2 separate regions of the Homo sapiens genome follow, and region 2 is linked to region 1. The links come from fine-mapping of genetic effects on gene expression. Tissue or cell type: cerebral cortex. Region 1 holds a variant in brackets; the other region holds the start of a gene. All regions are shown on one strand. Distances are between the middles of the regions.

Evidence for each region. PIP is the estimated chance that this variant, and not a neighbour inherited with it, causes the effect.
Region 2: ZNF185 starts here. The variant in region 1 is fine-mapped to the expression of ZNF185 in cerebral cortex (GTEx, PIP above 0.99).

Annotation. Positions count from the first base shown.
Region 1 is chrX:152,942,674-152,950,774 of GRCh38, forward strand. ZNF185 (zinc finger protein 185 with LIM domain) reads left to right here. Exons shown (of 25, transcript NM_001395254.1): 18 at 2,594-2,791. Among named protein-coding and RNA genes, the nearest start is that of PNMA5, 47 kb to the right of the region's middle. The variant T/C (reference allele first, on the strand shown) is at 4,366.
Region 2 is chrX:152,894,434-152,902,521 of GRCh38, forward strand. ZNF185 (zinc finger protein 185 with LIM domain) reads left to right here and starts at 3,634. Exons shown (of 25, transcript NM_001395254.1): 1 at 3,634-3,805. RefSeq lists enhancers at 2,886-3,386, 7,255-7,777.

The DNA of each region.
Region 1 (8,101 bases):
ACATGCTGTTTTCCTCATTATGTTGCAAGCATGGGCTTCTCGTTTATATTTTTTCTGCATGAGGATCAGGTGAAGTTTAGGCACCACATTTCCTCACCACTGGCAACCGTTGTTGGCCAGTGGAGGCAGTACAAGGGTGGAAGTGTCAGCTGGGTGCAGTGGCTCATACCCACCTGTAATCCTATACTTTGAGAGGCCGAGGCGGGAAGACCACTTGAGTTCCGGGGATTGAGATCAGCGTGGGCAACGTAGTGAGACCTCATCTCTACAAATATTATCTATATCTATATATGTATATGTATATGTATATCATATATATGATGTATATCTCATATATATATGTTTTTGAAACAATGTTTCACTTCTGTCGCCCCAGACTGGAGTGCAATGGGGTGATCTCGGCTTACTGCAACCTCTACCTCCTGGGCTCAAGTGATTCTCCTGCCTTAACCTCCCAAGTAGCTGGGACTACAGGCACACACCACTGCACCTGGCTTATTTTTGTAGAGAGGAGTTTTTGCCATGTTGCGCAGGCTGGTCTCAAACTCCTGACCTCAACTGATCCACCCACTTCTGCCTGCCAAAGTACTGAAATTACAGGCGTGAACCACTACGCCGGGACTACAATTTCCGTTTTTTAAAAGAATGGAAGTGTGTAGATTATGGTTGTGTTAGGAGTTGACAGTGGCTGTATTAGGCTACTGGATCTTTGGTCCAATTACACTCAGAAGGAAAGGCTTCAGAGAAATTAATCCAAAATCCAAAATCCCGTTGGTCACCATCCCCTATGTTACCTTGCCTATCTCTAACCACTTGACTTCCAGGAAGTTCATGAGGAGCTCGGACAGGATAGCTGGGAAGTAATTCCCCTGGATGTTACATTGTCCAGCAGAGCTTCCTGTGAGTGTTTGCCTAAGATTTCCTTTTTATGACCCACATAGGTCATATGTCCTAAAATCACAGTGGCCCTGCCACAGGCCTAGGAAAGAAGAAGCCTTGTTCATCCATTTGTCCCTGTGTCACAATAGAGCCCAAATTTCTCTTTGTGGATAATCCTGGCTCTATCCACAGACTTGGTGAGGGCAACCTCTACTAGTGTATTTCTACAGAGGACGTGGGACAGGACGGGACTCTGATTAAATCCATAGTAAAGCTAACTCAGGGCTACCACAGTAGGGAGACAAGCTCTTCAGGCCTTGTATGTTTGTCTTTGGCTCAAGCAAGCATGTCACTGACAGAGATTGAATGGGTGTGTCAGGGCACCCTGCTGGCAACCCTGGGACTGGTGTTACCTGTGCAGACCACTTTTGGATCTGCATGGGCTGCAGCAGACCCTAAGGGTGGAAGCAGCACAGAGAAGCACAGGCCCAGTGGGATGGTTCCCCACAGTTACTGTGTGGCGTCACACTCACTTGCCTGCAGTTCTGCCTGGTGCAGCTGGAGGTGGCAATTAGCTTGTTGTGCCTGCTGGAGAATTTTAGTTCCCTTGACCTCCACCTGAGGCTGAAGAATCATGTTGCTTTCAGGGCATACTTTCCAAAAAGTGTGGCCTCTGTTGGCCTTGTTATTCCAGCTTGAAGGCAGGAAGCCTGCCTAGACAAAGTTAACTCCTATATACAAAGAGTCCCAGGGTAGTTTGTAGCGTGTTCTTGTCTCGGGGTAGCCCCCACCAGCTATTGAAGGTAGGCTGGTGATGTTGGGAAGGTTATATTCAGAGTGAGCTAGGATCGAGGTGATGGCGAAGTAGATTTTCATTCTGAAATGCTGGGCTCACTCTCTTAGTAGCCCAACTTGGTGTTTGCCCCTGGCCTAGTAGACTCTGGAAGCAGTACCTTGCACCTCGGTGTGGGGCTGGTGATGGGAGGGGTGTGGAAGTGGAGGATCAGCTAGCAGCCTCTTTCCCACGGTACCCAGATTGGAGGGTGCAGTGCAATCATGGGGTGAGGCCAGGGAGGACCCCTGAAGAGCTCGATGCCTGAGACATCTGGGGGAAGCCCTGTCCTTCTTGCTGGATTCAGGGGTGGCAAAAGCCAAAAATTGGAGGGCCAGGTGCAATGGCACATGCCTGTAATCCCTGCACTTTGGGAGGCCAAGGCAGGAGGATCGCTTGAGACCAGCCTGGGCAACATGGTGAAACCTTGTCTCTACAGAAAAAAAAAAAAATACAAAAATTAGCTGGGCGTGGTAGTGTAGACCTGTAGTCTCTGCTACTCAGAAGGCTGAGACAGGAGGATGGCTTGAGCCCAGGAGGCAGAGGTTGCAGTGAGCCGAGATGATGCCACTGCACTCCAGCCTGGGCGACAGAGTGAGACCCTGCCTCCAAACAACAACAATAAAAACATCGGAGGCTTCGGCTTCATCTATTACACATGGAGGCCTGTTCAGTGAGAAGGGAGCAGCGATGCTGGGCTCCTGCCAAGGAGGAGACTGTCTGCTCCCTGGAATTGGGGCTGTGCCTGGCTCCTTTCTGCCCCGCTTTCAGGGATATGAGTCCCTCCAAGTCCACAGGAGGTGACAGCCAGCTTGCGTCCTGGGGCTGAGGCAGGGTTAGTTTCAGAGCACTTTTTTCATAAGGGTGCTTATTCTTCTTCAGGGCCTTGGCTGATTATGAGGGGAAGGATGTGGCCACCAGGGTCGGAGAGGCCTGGCAGGAGAGGCCTGGAGCTCCAAGAGGTGGCCAAGGAGACCCAGCTGTACCCGCTCAGCAACCTGCAGATCCCAGCACCCCAGAGCGGCAGAGCAGCCCCAGCGGATCTGAGCAACTTGTCAGACGAGAGAGTTGTGGCAGCAGGTAAGGGCTGAGCTGCAGTGGGCTCTGCCTCTGGAGCCCATGTTTTTGTTGAGGTCTGCGACCCACATGGGAACCACTTCCCCACACCCTGTGCCAATACCCGACACATTGCACACCCAGGCTCCTGTTCTGTGAGTGGGTCATGGTGATTCCCTGGTCCTAGAGCAGTGTCATCAGGCTTCTTGTGGCTCAAGGAGCTGGGAGGGGACTGTGATAGGAGGATGTGTCTGTCCCCAGGTGTGAGAAGCCCTGGCTAATTCCCAATGCATGGGGCAGGAAGGAAGGCTGTCTCTCAGAGTACAGGTGCTCTACAGGTGGGGGTCCTGGGCAGAGTGAGGGCTATTTGTGTGGGTAAAATGCCATTGTCAGAGAAGGACAGAGTGTGAAAGAGCAAAAAAACAGGAGGGTAAAAGTGCAAAAGTGACAGAGTGAAGCAGAGAGAGAGAGGCCAGAGGGAGAGAAAGGGAGCATGTGTGAGCAGGCATGAGAGAGTGACACAGGATGTGACTGGCCATGTGTTGGTGTGTGCCACTGTGCATGAGCAAGAGGACAAACGTGCCTGTTACTGGAGCTGACCATGTGGCATTGGTGTGAGAGTTTCAAGTCAGGCTCTCTTGAAGGCATCTTGCCTGCCAGCGCAAACACTGCATGTCCTTGCAGCTCTGGACACGTCAACAGGCCAGTGATTCCAGGGGTGCAAAGCGAACAGTTTCTTACACAAGACAGAAATGTAGAAGGAGAGAGCTAAGACTCATATTGCCCCGAGAGAGGAGCTAGTGGAATCCAGCAGGGCATCTGCTGTGGGGAGCAGGTGGAGCCTGGGGTTCCTTTTGCAGGGATGAAAGAAACACAGTCATCTGCCTTCTTTGTTCTGGGGCTTCTTGTACCACAGAGGTTCCATAATTATTAATAGTTAGGTTATTTTTAGGGCCTAGCTCAACTGTTAGATAACAAGTTTTACCTTCTAAGAATATCTAGCCCATCTTTGATTCCTTGGCTCCAGGCCCTGGAGGGTCCCAGTCCAAAAACAGAGTGAACAACTTTGGACTTGCTGTCACATTGTGTGGCTTCTAGAACTAGTCAGTGTTCCATGCAGAAGGGGTATAAAAAGTGAGGCTTGTGGATGAAGGAGGAGGCGAGTGGTTCTGGGTTTTGTTTTCGTTTTGCGGGGGAGTGTCAGGAAAGGCTTTCTTTACAGGGAGAGTGATGTTGGAGCTGGGTTTGGAAGGCTGAGGGAGATTTTGCCAGATGTGCCAGACGTGCTTGGGAAGGCATTCCGAGTGGAGGCTCACAAAGTGTATAGGGAACATCCAGTCAGGTAGCCATCACAAAGGAGGGTTAATCCAGCCTGGCTTGGCAGGAAGCACCAAGTAGGGGCTGGGCAGGCACCTGCTCCTAGGCTGAGGAGTGTGACCCACATCCTGAGGGCCTTGGGAGCCACCGATGGTTTTCCTGCAGGAGAGTGCCACAGCCAGACTCGAGTCCAAAGAAGATCCCTCCATTGCCCTGTGGAGGACCAGGCCAGGGGAGTATACGACGAGACAAGGCAGGAGGCCATATTGGAGACTGTTTGC[T/C]TACACCAGGGGCAAGGTGATGAGGCTGCAAGTATTTTTGAATTATTAAAGGTAAAAGCGGGCTTGGCGTGGTGGCTCACACCTGTCATCCCAGCACTTTGGGAGGCCGAGGTGGCAGTATCGCTTGAGCCCAGGAGTTTGAGACTAGCCTGGGGAACACAGCAAGACCCCATTTCTACAAAAAATTTAAAAACATTAGCCAGGTGTGGTGGCACATGCCTGTAGTACCAGCTACTTGGGAGGCTGAGGTGGGAGGATTGTTTGAGCCTTGCACGTCGAGGATACAGGGAGCCATGTTCCTGCCACTGTACTCCAGCCTGGGTAACAAAACAAGATCCTGTCTCCAAAATAAAAATAAAAAAAATAAAGATAACGGTGAGGGAAAAGTGGTAGCCAAGGTTGCTCCCCAGATTTCAGGGCTAGGCAATTGGATGGGTGGTGACAGGAACTAGCTGAGGGTAAGGAGTTTGGGGGCAGGCCCGCTGAGAGATGCACAGAGATGAGAAGGTCACTGGGCCATGCCGAATGAGAAGTGCCTGTAGGGGCTCCAGCCAGTGATGTCCAGTAGGCTACTGAGTAAACAAATGTGGAGTTGAGCAAAGATCTGACCTGGGGCTAGAGAGCTGGGAGTTGTCAGCTCATAGGAAGTCACTAAAGAGAATGCATGAGGTTGCCTGGAGAATGCCTTTGGAAGGCAGTGTGTACAAAGCATGTATTCTCGGCTTTTCTCTGCAGACTTCCAGGGACAGTTGTCCAGCCAGGCCCTTGGCTGGGTGGGTGAGTCCACGTGGTTCAGGGATGCTGAGGGAAGCTGCTTCATCAGCTGACATTTCTCTCCATTTTCTGCTCTTCTTTTGTCTCAAAAAGAAAAAAAGAGGGGATATTAATTATTGATCCCCTAAAACCCTAGCTGAATATATAAAATGAAAAGAAGTAAAAATATGAGAGAAGCAAAGGCAGATGGACCATAATTTTGGAAAATAATTCCAAAAGGTCTTAAGGAGGAAGAGGAGCTACAGAGAGGTATTGAGAAGGAAAATTTTGGATAAATGGAAGAATCAGGAAAGACTACCGTCATGGAAACCAAGCCACGCTGAGCTAACTTTCCAGTGCTCTGTAGATGCTGAAATAGGCCCATCAGATTTGGCTATGTAGAACTCATGACTGCCTTGAGGGGAGTAGGTTGGGGCAGTGGGAAAGGCTGTAGTTGGATTATAATGGATTGAGGAGGGAGCGGAGGATAAGCAGGTGCAGTTGATGGGGTACACACTCTGAAACTGGCTGTGACGTGATGGATGTGGGAGGGGTGAGCAGATAATTACAGCTACAAGATAATGGGGAAGGTTTCCTATAGGTGAAAGCAACGTGTGCATGTTAGGTAAAGGCTGGGCAGAGGGTGCCTACGTGACCAGTCCCCGATAAAATCCTTGGACTCTGAGTCTCTCATGAATTGCCCTGGTCGACAGCATTTCACACTTGTTGTCACAACTCACTGCTGAGGGGAACTGAGTGAATCCTGTGTGACCCACTGGGAGAGGACTCTGGAAGCTTGTGCCCGGGTTCCCTCAGAAATTTGCCTTGTGTGCTTTTCCCTTTGCTGATTTTGCTTCGTATCTTTTCACTATAATAAACCATAGCCTTGAGTGTGATGATGTGATGTGTCCTGTGAGTTCTTCTTGTGAATCACCAAGCCTAGGGATGGTCTTGGGGACCCCTGACACAGATGGGCAGGATCAGAACTTTATGCCATAACAAGGACTTTAGATTTTCTTTCGAGGGCAAAGAGGAGCCAGGAAGGTTTGAAGCAGGGGAGTGATATGGCGAGAGTATTGCTTTGCAATGGGATCTCCAGTGGCAGTGAGAAGAGTGACTGAAGTGGGCAGAGTGGAGCAGGGAGAAGAGGAAGTGCTTACAGCATCCTCCATGTAAGAAATGATGGGGCCTGGACTAGGGGACTAGCTGTGGAGATGGAGACAGAACTGTAAAATAAGTAGAAGAGATCCCAAATTGGATGACAGGTAAGACTTGGGAGAGCAGTGACGGAGAGGGAAGTGACAATTTAGAAAGCCACATTTCTGGTCGAGTGAGTGGAGTATGTGACCCCTCCTGGCTTAGGTGGTGGCCAAAGTATCTCTAACCTGCCTCTATACTGCCTGCAACTGACTGAGCAAATGCCTGGTCCGTGGAGATCCCAAGCTGACAAGGGCACCTGAGGCAAGCCTCTGGCTTTCAGGTGGAGGCCCTACCTAGGCTGGCCTGGCTGGATTGCCCTGGCACACTGCTGTTTTGCTGAGGCAGACAGCAGCACTCTGCAAGTGCTCTTCTCCTGTTCCTCTTAGTGGTCTAAATCCTGTAGCATGCTGGGGTGCGACTGTAGACAAATCCCCTTTCCGGGCCCCCTGGGGTTCTCTATTTGCAGTCTTTGGGTCTGGTCACTGGCATGGCATCTCAGTAGGCTAGGTTCATCAGGAAGGGTCAACTATGTCATGGCACCTGATGGGCAGCATTTAGAGTCTGTGGGCCAGGGGCTTAAGGGCTGCTTACTGCTAATAGTTCTAAGTAGCAAGCATTCCCTCAGCCCTAGTCTGGGCACACGCCAGGAAGAAAGCCACTAGATGTGCTCTCCTAGTGGATAACTAGCCTGGAGTTCCAAGAAGGGCAGAGACAGGCAGAGTGAGAGCCTTCAGAGATGTAGGCAACGATAGTAGCAGAACTTCGAGGGAGAGTAGATGGAAAAATTAAAAAAAATCCTTGTCATTATTTTTAAATGTCTGAATTGACCAGATTAGAATCTTTGAGAGTCTAGACACTAGGGAGATCTCATGGGTGGGCCAGTTATTATATCATATGGAGGGAGAGTACGTATGACCCAGCACGAGAGGACCAGAGGACAGTCAGTGCTAAGGGTAAAACCTTAGGCCATGGGAGATTGAGTTTTTCATCAGTTGGCAAGTTTTCACTTTAATACTCCACTGTTTCCATCATTTCAGACGACTGGGGATGATAAGGACAATGTAATTTGGGGGATAAAGGAAGAACTCATTATATTTCTTGGATGACTTTACTGGGGAAATGGATTCCTTAGTCATTTGAAAGAAGCGGTAGAATTCCACATGTGGGGAATACTTGTTCTAACAAAAGCTTAATAACATTAGTGGCAATGATCCTTTTATATAAGGGAAAGCTTCAAGCCAGTGAGAAAAACATAAATAAACTAGTAAGAACATATTTATAACCATGAGATTTGGGTGCAGAATAAAATCAAATTGGCAGTTCAGGAAAGGTCCTAAACATCTGTATATTAACAATATTCCATCAGTGAGCAATGTGAATTTCCCATAATTGAAATGATGATTGATAACCTTGTATTGTTCTTATCTAATATAAGGCAAAGCAGCACTGGGGCTTTGATAAAGAGCAATATCTCATGTACACTGAGGACACTGAAACCCCGCTAGGAATTCTATGGAATTTCTAAAATATTTATATTAAGGACATTTTACCCATTATAGACTAATTTAGGGAAGGTTCTGCATTTTTTTTTTGATTTGACAATGTTTCCAATGCAATTTATACAATATTAAATAAGACTAATTAGTTTTTGCACCTTTCTTGTTACAAGGTGAAAGAACTAATCCTTTGAGATTTTCCAGAAGGTCCCTGGCAAATCCCAAAGCCAGTTTTAGGTATAAAATATATTTAAGTTTTGATTGTGGGAAGGCAAATGTTAAGAGTT
Region 2 (8,088 bases), 48 kb before region 1:
AAGTGTAAACCGGTTGAAGAGCTTAAGAGGATGAGGTGGCAGGGCGGGCCCCGGGAAGGAGGGGATTAGGGATCAAGCAGGAGCCCAGCCCTCCCCGCACATGAACCTGAGCACCCCAGCTTCTCTCCAGCTGGGCAGGGGCTCCATCCAGAGCAGCTGGAACCCCAGGTTCTAAGCCCAGCTCTGCCTCAGACTAGCTGTGTAATCCTGGCAACATCTTGTCCCTCTGTGGGCCTCTGTTTTCCCATTTGTACAACTGAAGTGTTGAGGTTGCCTGCCTGTCTTCAGTCCCCTCTAGCTGAGGACACTGCCTGGGGGAGCTTTGCGGCCTGACAGCTTTCAGGGCCCAACCCCTCTTTCTCCCCCTCTAGCCTGGTAACTCTTTTTGTTTTCTGTATTTTTTGTAGAGACGGGGTCTCACCATATCGCTCAGGCTGGTCTTGAACTCCTGAGCTCAAGCGGTCTTCTCTCCTTGGCCTCCCAAAATGCTGGGATTACAGGCGTGAGCCACTGTGCCCACCTCCTAGCCTGGGAACTCTGGGGCTAGATCACCTTGCTTGAGTTCTCTTCCCAGCCCTGGAGATCAGAATGGGGCCTCCCCTGGAGCTGAGGAGTGCTGCTGGCCAGTTCTTTCCCAGCAGCCACCTGCCGTGCTACCCATCTCATTGCTTAGATGCAGCCTCCCAGAGACGCTGCCTCCACGGCCTGCTTGTGAGCTATGGCTTCTCCAGCACAGGGCTCACCACCTGCTACTCCCTGCCTCTACCTTTCAGCCTCTTGCCTGCCCAGACAGCCCAGCCTGGCCCCACCCTGAAGCCCCTACCTCTCACTTAGAGCCTTGCTGAGGGCCTGCTTGTTGGTGGGAAGAGACTGTCCAGTCCCCTGGAGGTGGCACTGCTGCCTAAGCTGGAGGGACTTCAGGAGAACTCTGCCAGAGCCAGGGGGTGGGAGCTGGCCTGTCTTGGAGCTGCGGATGGGTGGAAAAGTGCAAGAGATGTGAATAGGAAAGGATAGGGCCAAGCTCAGGCCAGGTAGGGACAGAGCCCAGCCTGGAGGCAGGCAGCAGCCACCACAGCCTTGGCCTAGAACTTGAGGGAGGTCTAAGGGAAGGTTCATGAAGGAGATAATGTTACTGCTGAGAGAAAGTGGAGGCCACCTGGTGTCCCTGGGGAGGAAATGTCATTCCAAACAAAGGGAGCATCTTGTGCAGCGTCCTGGTGGTATTTGAGCACTTGGTCTATCTGGGTACATGTCATTTGGGCATGTCTGGTGCTTGAAGAGGCTGAAGAAGCCAGCAGGTGCCTGAAGCCTGGCTGAGGTGACTAGAGGTGCCCTGGCAGGCGTGGAAGTGGAAGACTGTTGGGGCAATGGACAGGTGGGCAGGGCAGGGCAGGGCAGTTACCATTCAAGTCAAACCCGTTTGCAGGCAAGATCAGCTGCAGGGCCTGGCAGCCTGGCAGGGAGGGAGGGGTTCAGGGAAGGCTGATCTCTTTGGCTGGAGCAGTCGTGACAGATCGGGCCTGGGCAGAGACTGAGTCACCTGGGACATGGGAAGAGCTTGAGGCCCTGGGGCGGCCCAGCCTGGGGCAGTCCTCACTTGCTGGCCGTGCCGTTGGACACCACATTTGCTCATGCTCTCCAGCTGGGCCCCCCACCCCTGACTCAGGGCTCTTGAACAAGTTTGCCTTTTCCCTCTTCCTTGCCCTACATCTCACCCATCATGATGTCTTCTACCTTCTACCCTTTCAAACTAGGGGCTCTTGAAGAGGACTGGGACCCAGACAAAGAGTATGACACAGCCTAAGTCATACAGTAAACATGTTTAGGAGGTAAGATGCCAAGCCAAATCCATGGCCACCAGTAGCCACAGTGGAGGAGGGGAGGTGTTAGTTGCTGGCCACCAGACAGGGGCATACAATATTGGAAGCAGAAAAATGCTTGTTGGCAAGAGACGGACATGAACAGAAGTGACTTTATATACAACCCCCTAAGCACACACAGGGTCGCCTTCTCCCTATCTCATGAACCCCAAGAAGAAAAGGATGAGGACAGCTTCCACAGCCTCACTCACCCATCCATCACTTCCTTCTGCAAATTCTTCGGATGCCCTGTGCTGGTCTCCGTGACCCAGTGATGAATCAGAAGGGGCCCTGCCCTCCCAGAGCTCAGGATCTAGAACAATAGAGGGTGACAGCCACTATGCTGGATTGATGTCATCTGAGGGAACTAAGGGGTGCACAGAAGGAAGTGATCAGCTCGACTGGGTGGCAGGCAGGGGAGGCTTTCCGGACACTGGGTGGAGGCTTGAAGAATGACTAAGAGCTCACTAGCCCGACGGGGATGAAGAGCATTTTAGGGAGTCCGAGGAGCAGGAGCAAACACCCCAAGGTGAGCGCCATGTGATGTATTCAGAAGGCAATGGAAAAAGGCCAGTGTGGCTGTAATGTATTGAACAAAGGGAAGAGTGGCTGGACCTGCAGGGATAGGTCGTCTCAAGGAGTCTGGCTTTTACCCTGAGAGCAATGGGAAGCCATGGAGGAGTTGCAAGCAGGAGAGCACCTGATCATATTGACACACGTGAACTTTTAACCTGACCTCCGTGTAGAGACTGAGGGAAAGGAAGGCAAGACCAGAGGCAGGGGGACACCAGCAAGGAGGCTGGTCTTCGGGGCCAGGTCTGGACTAGGGTGGTGGCAGCAGGCACAGGGAGAAGTGGGTGGACTGGAGGGCCATGGAAACACCACATTGGCAGGCCTTGATGAAGGAGAAGCAGCTGGTCCATTCTTTTGAGCCTACCACCCTGGTAGGCCAACTCCTGGCCAAGTCCATGCCATTTCTTGGGCTGGCTTAATTGTCTCCCTGTTTGGGAGGCCGTGGGGTGAGGGGTCTTTCCTCCATGCTCTCTCCATCCTTAGCCCCAGCCCAGGGCCTTGCACACAATAAAGCACTCGGTGAGCACCAACGCGTGACACAGGTACATCAAACCGCATTGGCTCTGGGAGTCTGGCTGTATCTCGTCGCCCAGCCTGGGAGATAGCCCCGTTTGCTGTGCCTTGTGAGCCCCGGGTCCGTCCCAGGATGGCCTTCCACGATGAGCGGCTCCCTCACTCTTCTCCTCCTTTCCTGCCTGCAGGACTTCCTGGATGATCTCAGCCGCCAGCCCCCCGCCCCCCTCCCCGCCCCTGTCTGGGATCTCCATCTGTAAAATGGATCTAGGAACGGTAGTTCTCGACTGAATTAACCCGACAGCATCTGTGGAAGTCGTTGGCCCTGTGCCGGGGCCAGATCGCGCAACTAGGAGCGGGGGCCCTTCACGTGGCGGAGGCTTCCCGGCCTGGGGGCCACGGGCCCGGAGGAATTTGCCTGGAAGTTTTCCATCACGGCAGAGCCTTCTGGAGCTCGCCCCGTGCTCGACAAGGGGAGCCCCAGACTTGATTTCTCCAGCAGCCCCGCGGGGCGGGGCCGAGAAGGGGCGGGCGGGCGGAGGACGCTGGCGGGAGAATGTGCGGAATGTGCCAGGCGCCTCTACCTACCCCAGGAGGGGCAGAGGAAGGGGCCGGCCGAGGGGAGGGGCGAGGGGCGAGGCTCCGGGCGGCCGGAGAAAACCTGTTTGTTCTCCTGCGGGCGGAGCCCAGTCCGCGCCTCCTCGCCTCCCTGCGCGCTCCCCGCTGTGCACCGCGCCCCGCGCCCCGCGCCTGCCTCCCCGGCCCGGCCCGGCCCGGCCGGGCGCCGTCCACCCGAGGGAGCCCGCGCCCTGCGACTGCCCGACCCTCCACCCGCCCCACGAGCCGGGCACCGGTGCCAGGTAGGGCTGTCGAGTCGCCATTGGATGCGGCCCTGCTTGGAGGCAGTGGGGGGCACCCAGTCCGTGCCCAGCTGGGGACAAGTCAGGGCCTCAGTTTCCCCATCCATAACCCTTACCAGCTCCAAGCATCTCTCTTCGGGTTCCCCCCGGGAGTCAGTGGATTTCTGGTTTTCGCTGTGAGTGAAAAGACTGACAGGCAGAGGAGGCCAGCGTCCCCTACAGAGGCAAGTGTCCCCCTTGCCAGCCTGATCCCTCTGTCTTGCCCTTTAGGAAAGACACGGTTTAATTGTTAGTAAACGGCGAGGGGCCAGGATGCTCTGAGAGTTGACTGCAGGCCTTTAAGAATCAGGGAATCTCATATCCCTCCGTCCCCCTGTGCCCATTTTATAGATGAGGAAACTGAGACCCAGAGGCTGGCTCACCCAGAGGATCCCCTCAATCGCCCTGGGGCCTGTGAGGTGCATGTGCTGGGTACAGGGCAATCTTGGGGAGGGCCATGAGGATGGTGGCTGCTCACACTCAGACAGAAGGCGCCGAATCAGGTGTCACTGGGTGTTATCGACAGGATCGGCACTGCACCAGCTCTGTGGCTGGATTGTTTTGATGGGGGCAGAGGGAGCCAAGAGTCTGTCCTCTTTGGAAAGGCAGAGGGATACCTTGCCTTACAAAAAGGCCGAAAGCTCAGGTGCTCCTGCCTGATCTGCCACTTCTGAGCTGGGGACACCTGGGTACTCTGTCGGTTTAAGGGGGTGACACGTCAAGCTGCCTCCCACCCAGGGCTGCTGGGGACTCAGATAAAGTAGGTGGTGGGTGTGTCCCGGCTTTGGGACATCTGAGGCATGGTAGGAGTTGTGTTCTTGCTGAGCCGTCGGCACGAAGCCTTGGCATCATGGGAGGCCCCAAAGCTGTGAGCCCCGAGAGAGGGCCTCTCACACCCCATCCAGCAGTGCTTGAGGCTTCAGTACCTGGACTAAGTCCTGCCTTGGTCTCATGGCCCTTCAGACTTCTGGCTGTCGTACCTGGCTGGGGGCGGGAGGCAGGGGTGCACAGGTTGATAGGCCTGAACAGAGCTGCAGAGGTCCTGCCTTCCCAGGGCCTCCGCTCCTCATCTGAAAAACAAGGGGCAGCTCAGAGGCCAGCAAGTGGCCAAGACACAGATGCACAGATGAGGGGCCAGCCTTCTGGCAGGCCTTGGTGCCTCCGCTGTTCCCCTCATCGCTCCCAGGCCACTTCAGGATGGGAAGGAACAGATCCCTCTCACCTGCCCCTCCTTCCAGCAATTCCCAGCCCCTGGCTGGATGCTGTGCATTCAGCCGTGTGGAGCTGATGGAAGGCACTCAGTGCAGGGCCAGACACGCAGCAGGTGCTCAAGATCTGTTCATTTCCATCCTCTGGACACTCATGACTCAAGCAACAGAGGTGGCCCAGGACCACTTAGGATGTTGCAGCTCCGAGTAGCATGAAAACATTAGGGGTTCCTCAGTCCTGGAGCAGCGAGGCACCCCTGGCTGGGAAGATCAGGGAAGGCTTCCTGGAGGCGAAGGGCTTGGAAGCAGGAGGAGGAGCTCGGCAGCCACCAGGTCAAGGCCCGCACGTCCTTTGGAGCTGCTGGAGTCTAACCTCCCCGTTACTCCTGAAAGATCATAAACCACTTCTTGCTGAGCTCCTGCATATGGGGGCCCACAGAGAAATCAGCTCCATGCCTTGCCCTGAGGAGTGACAGAGAGGCCATCTGTCAGTAAGAAGTTGCCATCTGAATCCAAATGGCAGCAGTGCTTGTCCACCTCACTTCCTGCTCAGCTCAAGTCCAGACTCCAGAAAAAGCCTTTCCCACGTGAGGCCAGTGATGCCAGGGGCAGCCAGCGCCTCAGCTCAGCCTCCCTCAGCCTGACTTGTGCTCCTTGTCTTCCTGCCCAGTGTCCCCAAGGCCTCCTGAGATCTGGCAGGGCAGGGACTCTGGGTCCCTAGCACTGGGCCCAGGACCTGGCCACGATAGGCATCGGCACTTGTTCCCTGAACTGTCTTCAGTTGCATGCCAAGCAAACTCCCCCAATTCTGGCTCGGTGCATTCTGGAAGCCAGAAGCCTGCCTTCCTCCTTCCCTACTCAAGCTTCCACAGGTGACTGCCCCCTTTGGTGCGGGTTTTGCTTCAAGCCACAACTTATAAGGTGCCAGGTCACATGTAACACAAGCTTTCCTTCTGTTGCTGAGCCCTGAGGCTGCCCCCACTGCCAGTCCCTGGCGGCATGGGACAGGACCAGTGCCAGAGAGGAGAGCTGCTCTCCAGTGCGGCAACCCCTTGCAGTCCGGGCCTTTGGGCTCTCATGTTTAGGGTCAGTCCAGGGACTTTGCATTCGTTACCACTGTGCCCATAGTGAACCGGCTGATGCCAAGACAAGGGCAGTGCCATCAGGGGACCAGTCCCTGAGAGATGCTCAGGAGAGGTTGCCATCATTGCTTCCAAAGGCCGGGAAGAGGAGGAGGGGCTGAACTGTCCCACACCTGGTCAGGTGTGTGGCAGGTGAGGGTGGCACCTTCATAGCCTAGTGGTTAAGAGAATGGCTCAGAGGTCAGCCTGGGTTCAAACCCCAGCTCAGCCACCATCCAGTTGTGCAAAGTTCGGCCCTTCATGCAACCCCTTGAGGCCTCTGTTTTCTCACCAGTACTGAAGGGTGGCTAAAGCCAGGAGCACCTGCTGCACTGGGTGCCTGCAAGTGCTAGGTTCCTGGCACAGAGGTGCTCTGTCACGGAAGGTAGCTGAGCCAGGACTATGGTGCCCTCCTTCAGGGCTGTGGTGGCAAGGAGTGAAGTGGGACTAGGTGGAGAGAGAGATGCTGACTGGGATGTGGGCCCCTACCTGAGGAAAACAGTTTAGAAATTACTGCTGATGATGCAAACAGTATCTACCCACATTTAAAGTGACTCACTAAAGAACACTTAATTCTTAGGGTGATTTCTCATGCCTACTAAAGTCTGACTCGCTTTCTTTTTTGTTTTCACTTTTTTTTTTTTTTTTTGTTAGAGCTGGGGTCTCGCCTTGTCACCCAGGCTGGTGTACAGTGGCTAGTCACAGGCATGATCATAGCACACCGCAGCCTCCAACTCCTGGGCTCAAGCGATCCTCGTGCCTCAGCCTCCCGAGTAGCTGGCACTACAGGCGAGTGCCACCATGCCAGCACTGTTGTTACTTTTTATCTTTAATTTTTTTTTTTTTTACCTTGAATTGATTTAAAACTCATAGAAAAGTTGTACGAATCGTGCAGAGAACTCCTGAAGCCTTATCTGAATTCCCGCTATTAACATTTTGCCACATTTCTCATTAGCTTTCTTCACTTGTAGCCTTTGGATGGGTCAGAGGGTGGGCAGGGCTGTTGTCAGTTCATTTTTCCAAAGGGAAACTGAGGCACAGAGAGGGACTTGCTCAAGTGCCATTGATTAGAAACTGAGCCAGATTAACTTCTCTCAGGGACACATATTGATGCATTTGGCAGGTGTTTTCTTGATCACTTTCTGTGTTGGGCGCTGGGGCACAGAAATGACTGAGAACTGACAGCAAAGTGGGAGGGACAGGTCTGAGTGGAGAAGAGACTGGAAAAGGAAAAGACAAGAGGCCCTGTGGGTATCACTCTCAATGTCGGAGGTGGAATGCAGGAAGGAATCTGCAGCTTAAGCGTGTCTCCCAGGGAATTTGACTGCCGAAGGGTCCCAGAGGCCACTTTCAGAAACACGGTCTAGGCTTTTCCTGTTGGGAGTGTGCTCATTTCTCACCTCAAAAGGGAGCTAGGAACTGGGAGGGTGCCTGCCTGGAGCAGGGAGGTGGGTCCAGGCCAGCCAAGAGAGCAATTCCTCACCCACTCATTAACGCCCGCTGAGCCATCCCTCTTCCCGCAGAGCTGCCCTTGGGGCTGCTGCTGCTGAGATGGCGGCAGAGCTCTGAAGCCACGCCCTGGGTCAGAGAGGAGACATAGCCTCTGGGGCCAGTGGGCAAGCCCTAGGCTGCTGGTGGTTGCTGGCGGTGGTCCCTGGCCTTGGCCCCATCTGTAGGCCCAGCTCGGGCACCCAGTCCGGGCCCCTTGGTCTAGTCCCTGTGATCTTTGGCTCAGCACGCCACTTTGTGATGACTAGGTCAGTTTCCCAGAGAGCTTGATGTGGCGAAGAGTTGCTATGGAGAGAGCAAGCACAAGGATTTTAATCACAAGAACCGGCATCCCTGGTGAAAATGCTTACATCAGGCAGTGCCTGCTTTAAACTGAAATAAAAATAAAAATAAAAATAAAACCCAA